Linked DNA regions of Homo sapiens. The protein of the gene in region 2 interacts with the protein of the main gene of each other region in a pairwise test. Each region holds a gene or a part of one and is shown on either strand. Other genes may lie near its edges.

Evidence for each region.
Region 1: the proteins of TXNDC11 (region 2) and RPS6KA5 interact in a two-hybrid assay, tested with the Homo sapiens proteins (one large-scale study listed by BioGRID and IntAct).
Region 3: the proteins of TXNDC11 (region 2) and STAT5A interact in a two-hybrid assay, tested with the Homo sapiens proteins (one large-scale study listed by BioGRID and IntAct).

What each region holds. Positions count from the first base shown.
Region 1 is NC_000014.9:90,847,491-90,851,141, reverse strand, and holds the end of RPS6KA5 (ribosomal protein S6 kinase alpha-5), read left to right. Parts: 3' UTR 1-3,281; downstream 3,282-3,651. UniProt on the Homo sapiens protein: Serine/threonine-protein kinase that is required for the mitogen or stress-induced phosphorylation of the transcription factors CREB1 and ATF1 and for the regulation of the transcription factors RELA, STAT3 and ETV1/ER81, and that contributes to gene activation by histone phosphorylation and functions in the regulation of inflammatory genes.
Region 2 is NC_000016.10:11,681,089-11,683,876, reverse strand, and holds part of TXNDC11 (thioredoxin domain-containing protein 11), read left to right. Parts: intron 1-2,788. UniProt on the Homo sapiens protein: May act as a redox regulator involved in DUOX proteins folding. The interaction with DUOX1 and DUOX2 suggest that it belongs to a multiprotein complex constituting the thyroid H(2)O(2) generating system.
Region 3 is NC_000017.11:42,298,435-42,302,085, reverse strand, and holds part of STAT5A (signal transducer and activator of transcription 5A), read right to left. Parts: intron 2,336-3,651; coding exon 2,205-2,335; intron 1,957-2,204; coding exon 1,805-1,956; intron 1,372-1,804; coding exon 1,216-1,371; intron 812-1,215; coding exon 632-811; intron 1-631. UniProt on the Homo sapiens protein: Carries out a dual function: signal transduction and activation of transcription. Mediates cellular responses to the cytokine KITLG/SCF and other growth factors. Mediates cellular responses to ERBB4.

The DNA.
Region 1 (3,651 bases), on a different chromosome or scaffold from region 2:
GGCATGAACCCGGGAGGCGGAGCTTGCAGTGAGCCGAGATCACGCCACTGCACTCCAGCCTGGGGGGCAGAGTGAGACTCTGTCTCAAAAAAAAAATAAAATAAAAGTATCTTTACCCACTTCTCTGTAGTGAATATTGACTAGCATTTTGAAGTAGGAACTAACAAAGTATAAAATTAAGTAGATTTTTTATATTTATGGGTATTGTTCTAGTACAAATTTATGGTGTACACTGTCGGTCTGAGTGTGGGTTTAAAATATATCATTGTGCTTGGCTAATTTGTAGAATGTCTTATTTGAATTGACTTCATTTATTTCAGAGGAATGCATAGATGATCAGATCAAACTGTCGTCATAGCAGTGTTTTCAGCACATACGAGAATCTTAGAGTTTAGGAGCCTTAGAGCTCACCCAGTGCAATTTCCTGCCGGAAGCAGATTCCTTCCTGGTGACCTCACCAACAGGTGCTTGTGCAGCCTTTTCCTGAAAACTTTTTGGGAAAGTGGGGGCTGCTACCTCACTACTTTGATGTGTACCTTTTGTTCAAGAACTTTCTAAAACTTGGAGCTAATCATGGGTTATTTCAGAAGATGTAAGCATTTTAAGTTTTTTATTGAATTCCATCCTTATTTAAAAGGCCTGGTTATGTAATATTTTCTGTTTTTTTTTTTTTTTTTTGTATGGTTTCCCACATTGATTAGGTTGTTTTCTTCATTTTCTTAATAGATTAAAAATACTTTCTTCTCTTTCTATTTGTGTCTTCTTCCATTTAGTATTTATGGGAGGGAGCAAGAAGGGAAAGGATGTCTATTTTTAAAATTGACTACAATCATGACTGTTCTTCTTGTCATTCTGTAGCAGCTGGATTTATTACCATCTCTTATTTAAAGGTCCTTCAGAACACGTTGAAGCAGTTCATTTCAGGTCAATGGCTGGTAAGCAATGTCAGGACCTCTGGGGAAGGAGAAGCTGACGGGATCCCAGAGGAAAGAATTGAGGTTGTTTGCTCCCTTGTAGAAAGCCCACAGATCCCTTCCCAGACTAGAAAAAAAGTGCCAGAGTGTCCTGAAACTTTCCTTCTAAGGCACATACTTCAAAGAGACTGGGGATTCCTTTGTTTTAAATATAGGTGGGGTCTCACAGTGTTGCCCAGGCTGGGCTCAAGCGATCCTGCCACCTGGGCCTCCCAAAGTGATGGGATTACAGGCATGAGCCACCATGCACGGCCATGGAGATTCTAATGTGGTGCCAGCTGCCAGGTAAGAAAGCTGTGAGACAATGTGTTGATTTTCCTTTACTACGTCAGGTTTGAGGACATCATCTAGCATCAACGGGTAACGTCACCCTTTGTTCCATCTTTGGGAAATAATAGTAGTAGCTTGTTACTGTTAGCTGACCCCTACATTAGCATCAATAAAGTAAATCCCTTTAACTTTCCTTTTGGCCTTTCCTTTCTCTCTCTCTGCCTCCCCACCAGCCCCGACTCTCTCCTGTGTGCGTACACATCCACACACACCTCCATGGTATTCCTTCTTTCTCCCACCTAAGGGAAGCTGTGCCCGATCTTGCTGCAGTCCAGGTCACCGTACTGAGATGAGTCAGCCACAGACTCTAAACACTAGCAGCGATTAGCCGTATGTAGCCACCAAGTGCACTGTTTTAGACAGGTTTACACAGCTCTTTGCTGTCCACTCATATCAGCTGTGTAGTAGCCCAAGGCAGCCTGTCAGGCAGAAGAATTACCAACCAAAGTGGATCTATTCATAAGATAAAAGATCCGGAGTCCGTGCCCTCTTAAAAAACTTTTGTCTTCAGACATATGGGTGCGTGTTCATCTCTGGCCAAAACTTTGTTTCCAGTTTCAAAGGGCTGGTTGCGAAGGTGGCCTTGTAACCTTTCTGTTGCCGGCTCTGTTAGTTGCCTGATAAGCAGTAGCTAATTCATCCTCCTCAGAATTTGAGAGTGGCATCTATTAGATTCAGACCACCAAGGTGCCTGCGCGGGCTCTCCTGGTTACGACTGAGTCCCCTTTTCTCATCTGTGGGGTGAACGCTTCTATTTGCAGAAATTTGCTTGCATCTTTTTCCTTTTATTTATTATTACTTTTTAGAGATGCGGCCTTGCTCTGTTGCCCAGGCTGGAGTGCGGTGGACTCTTTTCTTTTGTTGATCTTTGCCATCCTCTGCCTGGCTTAATGAGGTTCTTTCCCTGCGTATTTATGTCCCAGGAGCTCACCTTCCCCCTAGGTTTTTAAGAAGGAAGCAGAAAATGTTACAAAGTATAAGGGATTCTATGAAGTCCATAGATAGGATTTGCTTTGGGAGTAGATGATTTCTTCTTATTTTGGTGTAAACATCAATTTGGATGGCAATTAGAATGTCTTTAGCCTCTTTAAAAAGCCCTTCTGGGGCAAACCTTTGCAAGTCACTCAGCTGGCATGTAATGAGATTTTTATTTGCATGGCTTTTTTTTTCTAAGTCTCTCTAGAAGAACATAAGGACATTCTGAACATGCAAGGAATACAGTTATTCTCACATCAAGGATCAATTTTATTTTGTATCTTCATTTTATGTCATTTTCCTTTATTTTATTCACATTAATCTAGCATTAATTCCCCCCAGAGGGAATGATATTTTTGGTTGCTGCCACCTGTGTTATTAAGTGACAGCTTTTCTTTATCTGCTTTTCTGAATTTCATATTTATATACTTTATTGTAGTTTTTTAAAATCTATTCTAGCTGGGCTAGAATCTTCCAAGTATTAATTCATAATGAACTTCCCTCTTCTGGAATTGTTTAGGAGGGCTAATGTTCCATGTTCCCTTCGTTGCTATAGATATGAAGTTATTTCGATGTTCTTTGAGTGCTTTATTATAGCGATAACTGGTACTGCCTTTGATTAAAGGTGAGCTATATGGAGTTAAGCATTTTTATACTAGTAACTATTTATTGAGAATTTTCAGAATTCTATAGCTACTTGTCTTTAACAGTTATAAGAGGCATGTATTTTTTTTTCCTTCATGGTCTGGAAGTTAGTTTTCTCTTTGTTTGGGTAGATCGGAATGAGTTGTTGAGCTGTGTTGAAAACACACATGAATCAAAAAAGCAGATGTATTGTAGAAATGTGATGTTTTCATGTTTCGGGAATTTGACCGGAAAGCTTTATGTATGGGTTTTATTTTTAACAAAGCAGTAAGGGCTTACTTTTTACCAACTTGTGTGTGTGTAAAGATGTATTTGTTCAAGCTTTAAGAATAAACCTGTCAATGTACAAATGCCTGATATCTGACTTGGACTTGTGGTTTGTTTGTTTGTTTGTTTGTTTGCTTTTCGGGGCGTGGGGGTAGGTATGTTGGATCTTGGAAATAAGTGAGAGTGTTAAAGAAGCACAACAATCTGTATCAGTGAATTTACATCTTAGAAGACTCACATTAACTTATGCTTGAATGAAAACCGTGTGTGGATAACTGAATGCAGCGTTTTCTGAACTGCCCTGAAGGACGGCTTAAAAGGAGAAGGAAGCCACTCGCCCATTTAGTGTTCTGAAAGGTCTTTTCCCCTAGGACCCATTCATGCCTCCCTTCATCAAGCCCCCATCCTTCGAGGGTTCCAGAAAATGAGCCCCGGAGCAGATGATTGAGGGAGGGCACGC
Region 2 (2,788 bases):
CTGAGGCTGAGGCACGAGAATCTCTTGAACCTGGGATGCGGAGGTTGCAGTGAGCCAAGATCACACCACTGCACTCCAACCTGGGTGACAGAGCGAGGCTCTGCCTCAAAAAAAAAAAAAAAAAAAAAGTGTCCTTAGGGACATAAAAGGGTTGTAGTGTCAGGATGTTATGTGTGGTATGGATCTTTTAAAGGTTGTTTTTCCCAGTCTATCTCTTACCCGAGCTTGAATGTGGCCGTGAGAATTCTTAGCTTTCATGGCCTGTATGAACATATGGAGGACGCAGAGACTGACAGGATTCTTCTGTTGCCCTGGCTGGAGTGCAGTGGTGCAATGTTTGTGTGGGGCAAAACAGCAGAGAATCTGTGGAGCCCTGCCTGCCCCAAGCCTTCCACTTGCTTGTCTCTCAGTTGGCCTCCCAGCAGCTCCTCATCCCTCTCGTACAGAGGACAGGGTGGCTTTCTTACCCATGGCACGTCCTTTTCTCGGATTCCAGGAGGCCTACAAAGGGGTTTTCTCCCATGCGTGCAGACTGCTGTGAACGTCCGCCATGGGATGGTCGCTTGATTTTTTCACACTTGCCTAATCAGTATTCCAGGTGCAGTTCTTAACGGCAACTACCCCGGAAGCCCCTGCAAGCAGGACATTAACAAGGGGGAGCGGACTTCCAGTTAGTAAACGTAGATGCAGATGTTTTAGTGGAAAAAGAAATTAACTCTTGGTCCTTTAGAGCCTAATACACTGGATGTTTGCTCCCTTTTTATAGATTCCCTTTGGTTTTTAGAAAGTTGAGTCCTTTTGGGGACCCACTCACATGACTTTGACAGTATCTTCTCTCCAGGGGAAAGTGTCTGCAGCATCATTTAGGGAGTTCCCTGGCTCGCATGTATGACGTTTGCTGTTTTAATTTCCTGCCTCCCTTTTGCGATTCAGCTTGTCATGTTTCTCTAGGAGAGTGTTTCCTTCATATCTATTGAATCATTCCCTTGGTTTTTGCTTTGTATCTCAAAGAATTTTTGCGGGAGTACTTCTGTGGTAGTAGGGTCTTGTCACATCATGCACTAAAAACAGAATGTGACTCACCCTTTTCTACTGCTGACTGAGTTGTGATGAGGCTTTTTCTTTCTAAGAAGTGTTTAAATTACCACATAGTCCAGGAATCACGGACAGTAACACTAACACTTTCATCTGTGTGGGCCAGGAGTTGGGCATGTAGTTTAATGACGTATAATTTTTGAATTCCAAGCATAGTTTGAAAAAATATGAAAATCTTAGCACCCAGCACATGCCTTTTAATGAAGAAGTTCTCAGCAGCTGGCAGAAATGCATCTGTGTAGAGAGACACAGGCGGAACAGGTGGCAGGGTGGGGCGTCATCTGGAGGCCTGCGTCTGGGCTGAGTGACCTTCGTTCTTAGGCTGCCTGGTGTGGGAAACGTGAAGATGTGCGCATTTCTCCGGCCCCATGCTGGGCACTTGCTGCAGGCCCTTACCCTTGTCGTTTCTAAATATCGAACATAAGAAGACTGTCCACTTCTCTTTTAATGTAAGGATGTTGGTAAACCAAAGCTTTATGGCTTTGGAATGGAATTTTTCTCATTTCCTAAAAATAAATGGTAGAAGTAAAGTATGCTCATCATGAGCTGGTCCCAAGCGAGTGTTTGGTTTAGCCAGAAGGTAAATGGGCAAGCAGCGTGAGCTGACAGCTTGCAAAAGAGGAAATGAAAAAGGCTGTTGGATAACATGTAGTAAGACCTTTTTCATTGTCCACCTGCTTATGCTATTTTTAGTGAAAAGAATATGAAATTGTATATTTACTGTGATAAAATATAAACTTGTGCATGTGCTAGGTGGAGATGTTCACAGAGGGGAAAATGTTGAGGTGTTAACATTGATGACTTCAGAGGAGTGAGATTGCAAGTGATTTGAAGGTGCTGCTTGTATGTTTTTACATCCCTTGCAAATTGTCTACAAAGAGCATGTCTTGATTTATAAAAATCATGAAGGAAAAAAATGCAAGAGCCTGTCCTTGGGAGGAAGAGGAAGGGGTGGGGCCTTGAGGGAGACATAGCCTTCCTGTGCAGAGGCATCTTGGAGCCACTTGCTCCACCGAGCAGGTGCTCCTCCAGCCAGCACTTGCGTCAGACTCTGTGTGACATTGCAAAATATAGGTGCTCTGGCCTGGCCCTGGGCCAGGGTGATGAGGGGGAGATGGGTGCTCCTGTCCACCAAGAGACTCTGATGTGTCCCAGGGGAAGAATCACAGTTTTTTAGAGGTGTGCCCTGCCACTCCCTCAGGGTTAGAGGAGAGTTGCATAGACATGGGGACCTCTTCCCACCATAGTTTCACATGACTGCTTTCCTGGAAGTAGACTGTTGACATTCTCTGTCCCTGCTACTTTCACAAAGTGTGGCAGTATTTTAGTGTGCCCATTAGGGACATTGATGGAGAGTGCACCAAGACCTCTTAGTTAGCAGATAGCATGCTCACGGATGTCACTGTCCTGTAAATGTCTGGAGGTAGACATCCTGAGGGATCTTGGCAGCTTTTTCTGGGAAGTAATTCACGTTTACTCTGCCTTACAAGACCAGGCTTGTGCCGCAGAACGTGGGGGCAGGTCCAGCGTCTGGTATTCTTCCATGGGCCCACTTGACAGGGCCACGATGTGTTTTCAGTTGTTGTGGGGTTTTTTGGTTTTCTGTTTTTGAGACAAGGTCTGACTCTGTTGCCCAGGCTGGAGTGCAGTGGTGCAATTACGGCTCACTGCAGTCTTGAACTCCTGGACTCAA
Region 3 (3,651 bases), on a different chromosome or scaffold from region 2:
CAAATGATCCTACCACCTCAGCTTCCCGAGTAGCTGGGACTACAAGTGCGTGCACCACCATGCCCAGCTAATTTTAAAACTTTTTGTAGCGATGAGGGTCTCCCTATATTGTCCAACTCAAACTTTTGGGCTCAAGTGATCCTCCGACCGTGGCCTCCCAAAGTGCTGGGATTACAGGGGTAAGCCACGGCATCTAGCCTAGCACCAAGCTTGTTGCAGGGACAGGGAAGGCATCTGAGTAGGAGGAAGGCAGTGTACCATCTGTCCCAGATTTAATGATGGTTTGACATGATTGTTTGAATTTACAATGGTGTGAAGCAATACACTTTCAGGAGAAAGTGGTGTGATAGTCTCTCACAATGCTGGGCAGTGGCAGTGAGCCTCAGCTCTCCGGCAGCCACACCATCCCCAGGGTAAAGAACGGATACTCGGCTGGGTGTGGTGGCTCACGCCTATCAACTCAGCACTTTGGGAGGCTGAGGTGGGAAGACTGCATGAGTCCAGGAGTTCGAGACCAGCCTGGGCAACACGGTGAACTAGGGGACAAGACATAGCTGGATGCAAGGACAAAGCGGGGGGTGCAGGTCCCCCACACCTAAGCTTGGGCAGGGGAAGGGAGAGGCACAATTACTTGCGGGTGTTCTCATTTTTAAGCAGAGACTTGGCCTGCTGCTCACTGATGATGGTGGCCTTCACCTGGGGGGGATTCATGTGCACGTTCAGCTTCCCGCCCACCAGCAGGCGTACGGTGGCTGCAAACTTGGTCTGGGTCTTCAGGACCTGAGGAGGCTGCTTCTCAATGATGAATGTGCTGCATGGGACACAGGGACAGACACACGATGAGGGGTTGGCGCAGGGGAAAGGGCTCTCAGTCCCTCTGTGGTGGGGGTGGGGCTGCCTCCCATGGGGCTCAGGAGGTGATGAGCTCGGGCACAACCTCTGTTCCCGGGGAAGCTGTGAGAGTCCAGGGAGAGGATGGAGAGGGGAGTGAGATAACACAGCAGCTGGCATGGGCTGCGGCCCAGGGTATCTCTTGCAGTGTCCACAGGAGAAACTGGGCAAGGGCGGCACCTAGCAGCCACAGCAACTGGAGATGGAGTTGGGAGGGATGAGAGGCAGGAAGTGGATCTGCTGGTCTGGAAGGCACCTGCAGCTCCCCCCACGCAGGCAGGAGCTGCCCCAAGCTCCTGGGCATGGCAAACAGGCAGCAGTCACCTGGTCACCAGGGCTGAGATAATGTCCGTGATGGTGGCGTTGACCTCGGCCAGCATCTCCTCCACTGGGCCGGGGATGGGCAGCTGCTGGCAGAGGTGCTCAGCCCTGCGGATCTGCTGCCGGTTCTGCCAGATGATCTCGGCCAACTTCTCACACCTGCACGAGAGCCCCAAGGCCAACAGGAGGACAATGGCTTCTCCTCACAGACGCCAGGCCCCAAGACACAGCTCCCGTTCCCCCAGGAAGGCTCTGTGCTTTCGCCACACTTCCCACCCATGGGAAGAGCAGAGCTCCCTGCCTCCCAGAATTAGAGACGTACACAGGAGGGGCGACCCTGACTAGGCCCAAACAGCCCAAGCATCACCCCACACACCCGAGCCCCATCCCACCCCCAGGACAGCAGCCCCCTTCCTGGGGGAGGTGCACAGGATGGGGACCAAAGTCTGATTGAGGAACCAGGCTCCCTGGAGAAACAAGAGCTGTCCCAGGATGGAGGGGGCCTGCTGCAGGAGCCAGCACAGGACGCAGAAGCAGCCGGGGTCCCCACCAGCCCCTCCTGCCCTGCCCGCTGGCCGCCCCACACCATTACCAGGACTGTAGCACGTCCAGGCTGCCCTCGGGGGGCCCGCCGTTCCCGGCCAGCTGCTGCCGCCGCTTCCACTGGATCAGCTCGTCATCCAGGATGATGGTCTGCTGCTTCCGCAGCAGCTGCAGGGTCTTCTGGTGCTTCTCGGCCAGCTCCTGAGGGAAGGGAGGAGAGCAGCCCCTTCTGGGCTCCCAGAGAACACCGCAGGGCCTCGCTGGGAAATGGCAGGGCAGGGCCCAGGCCGTTCCCTCTCCCCAAGCTGCTCTGCCTCGCAAGGCCCCCAGGAAAAAAGGCCTCCTGCCCTCCCAGGTTCTGCTCTCATGCTGGTCCCAGCCCTCCCTCGGGTCCCCAGAGACTGACTTCATGGCACCCACGCCCAGGAGAGGCCCAGGACCCCACTCACCACGCGGTACTGCTGCAGTGTCTGTGCCTCACGCTGCAACCAGGCCTCCAGAGACACCTGCTTCTGCTGGAGGGCCGTCTCCCGGCTCAGACGCTCCTGGGGGCTCAGCTGGGCCAGCTGGGCAAACTGAGCTAGAGGAGAGAAGAGGAAACCATGACCATCACCTCCTAGTGTCCAACAGGAGGCCTAGAGAAGCCCACTCACCTGTTCTGGAGCGAGACCCTCCCAGGCTCAGACACTGCATCAAGAGCAAGTCGGGGTTCCTGACAGCCAGGGGGGCCAAGATGAATGGCGCCTCAGGAGGCGCCTCTGGGCCCTGCTCACCAGCCTCCTGACTCTGAGCCGTCCCCTCTGGGGGCACACGGGTGCTGGGGCAGCTGGGGAGGAGGCCTGCCTGCCTCCTGCCCGCCTGCCTCACAGGGCTGCCAGCCCTCTTCTCGCGTCCCAGCATGGGTCCAGGCTGTCTGGGGTGTAAGTGTGCCCATGCCCTTGACTGCAGGTGAACCTGGGCAAATCGCTTTCCTTTCCTGTGCCTCAGCTTCCCCACGTGTAAAACGGGAGATTCTCAGCACCTGCCTCAGTGGGGTGCTTGAAGATTAAATACATGAGGACATGGAAGATGCCAGAAAGCTGCCTGACATGGGTGAGCTCTGTGTGAGGTTCGTGCTTCTTGGTTAACGGGGAACAGGACAGAGAGAAGAGGTGACAGAGACAAGCAGCTGCTCGGCCCCATCCCTCCCGCAGCAAGGCCTCTTCAGGGAACCCCAGCCCCGGCGGCTCTGTCTCGTCCCTGAGCACAGCAGTCCCTCCTCAGGGGAGGATGAGATTCTTGAGGGGCTGGAAGGGGCCCAGCATGTTTGTCCAGGTGGGCTCACTGTGAGCCCAGCCGACCAACCAGGGGAGACAGACAGATAGACAGACCGCAGAGGGAGAGCGTGTCCAGGGCCACTGGGGATGCAGAGCCACCAAGATTCTCTCAGGAAAGGGAGGCCGAAGGGAGGCGGCTTCCCTCCACACCATCTGTGAGGAGTCTCATTGATGGCGGGACAGGGAATAAGTCAGGCCTCACTAGCTTTTAAAAAGTATCCATCATGGGGCTGGGCGCAGTGGCTCACGCCTGTAATCCCAGCACTTTGGGAGACTGAGGCGGGCAGATCACGAGGTCAGGTGATCGAGACCATCCTGGCTAGAGACCATCCTGGCTAACACAGTGAAACCCCATCTCTACTAAAAACACAAAAAATTAGCCGGGCATGGTGGCGGGTGCCTGTAGTTCCAGCTACTAGGGAGGCTGAGGCAGGAGAATGGCGTGAACCCAGAAGGTGGAGCTTGCAGTGAGCCGAGATTGGGCCACTGCACTCCAGCCTGGGCGACAGAGCTAGACTCTGTCTAAAAAAAAAAAAAAAAAAGTATCCATCATGTGCCAGGCTCGGTGGCTTACGCCTGT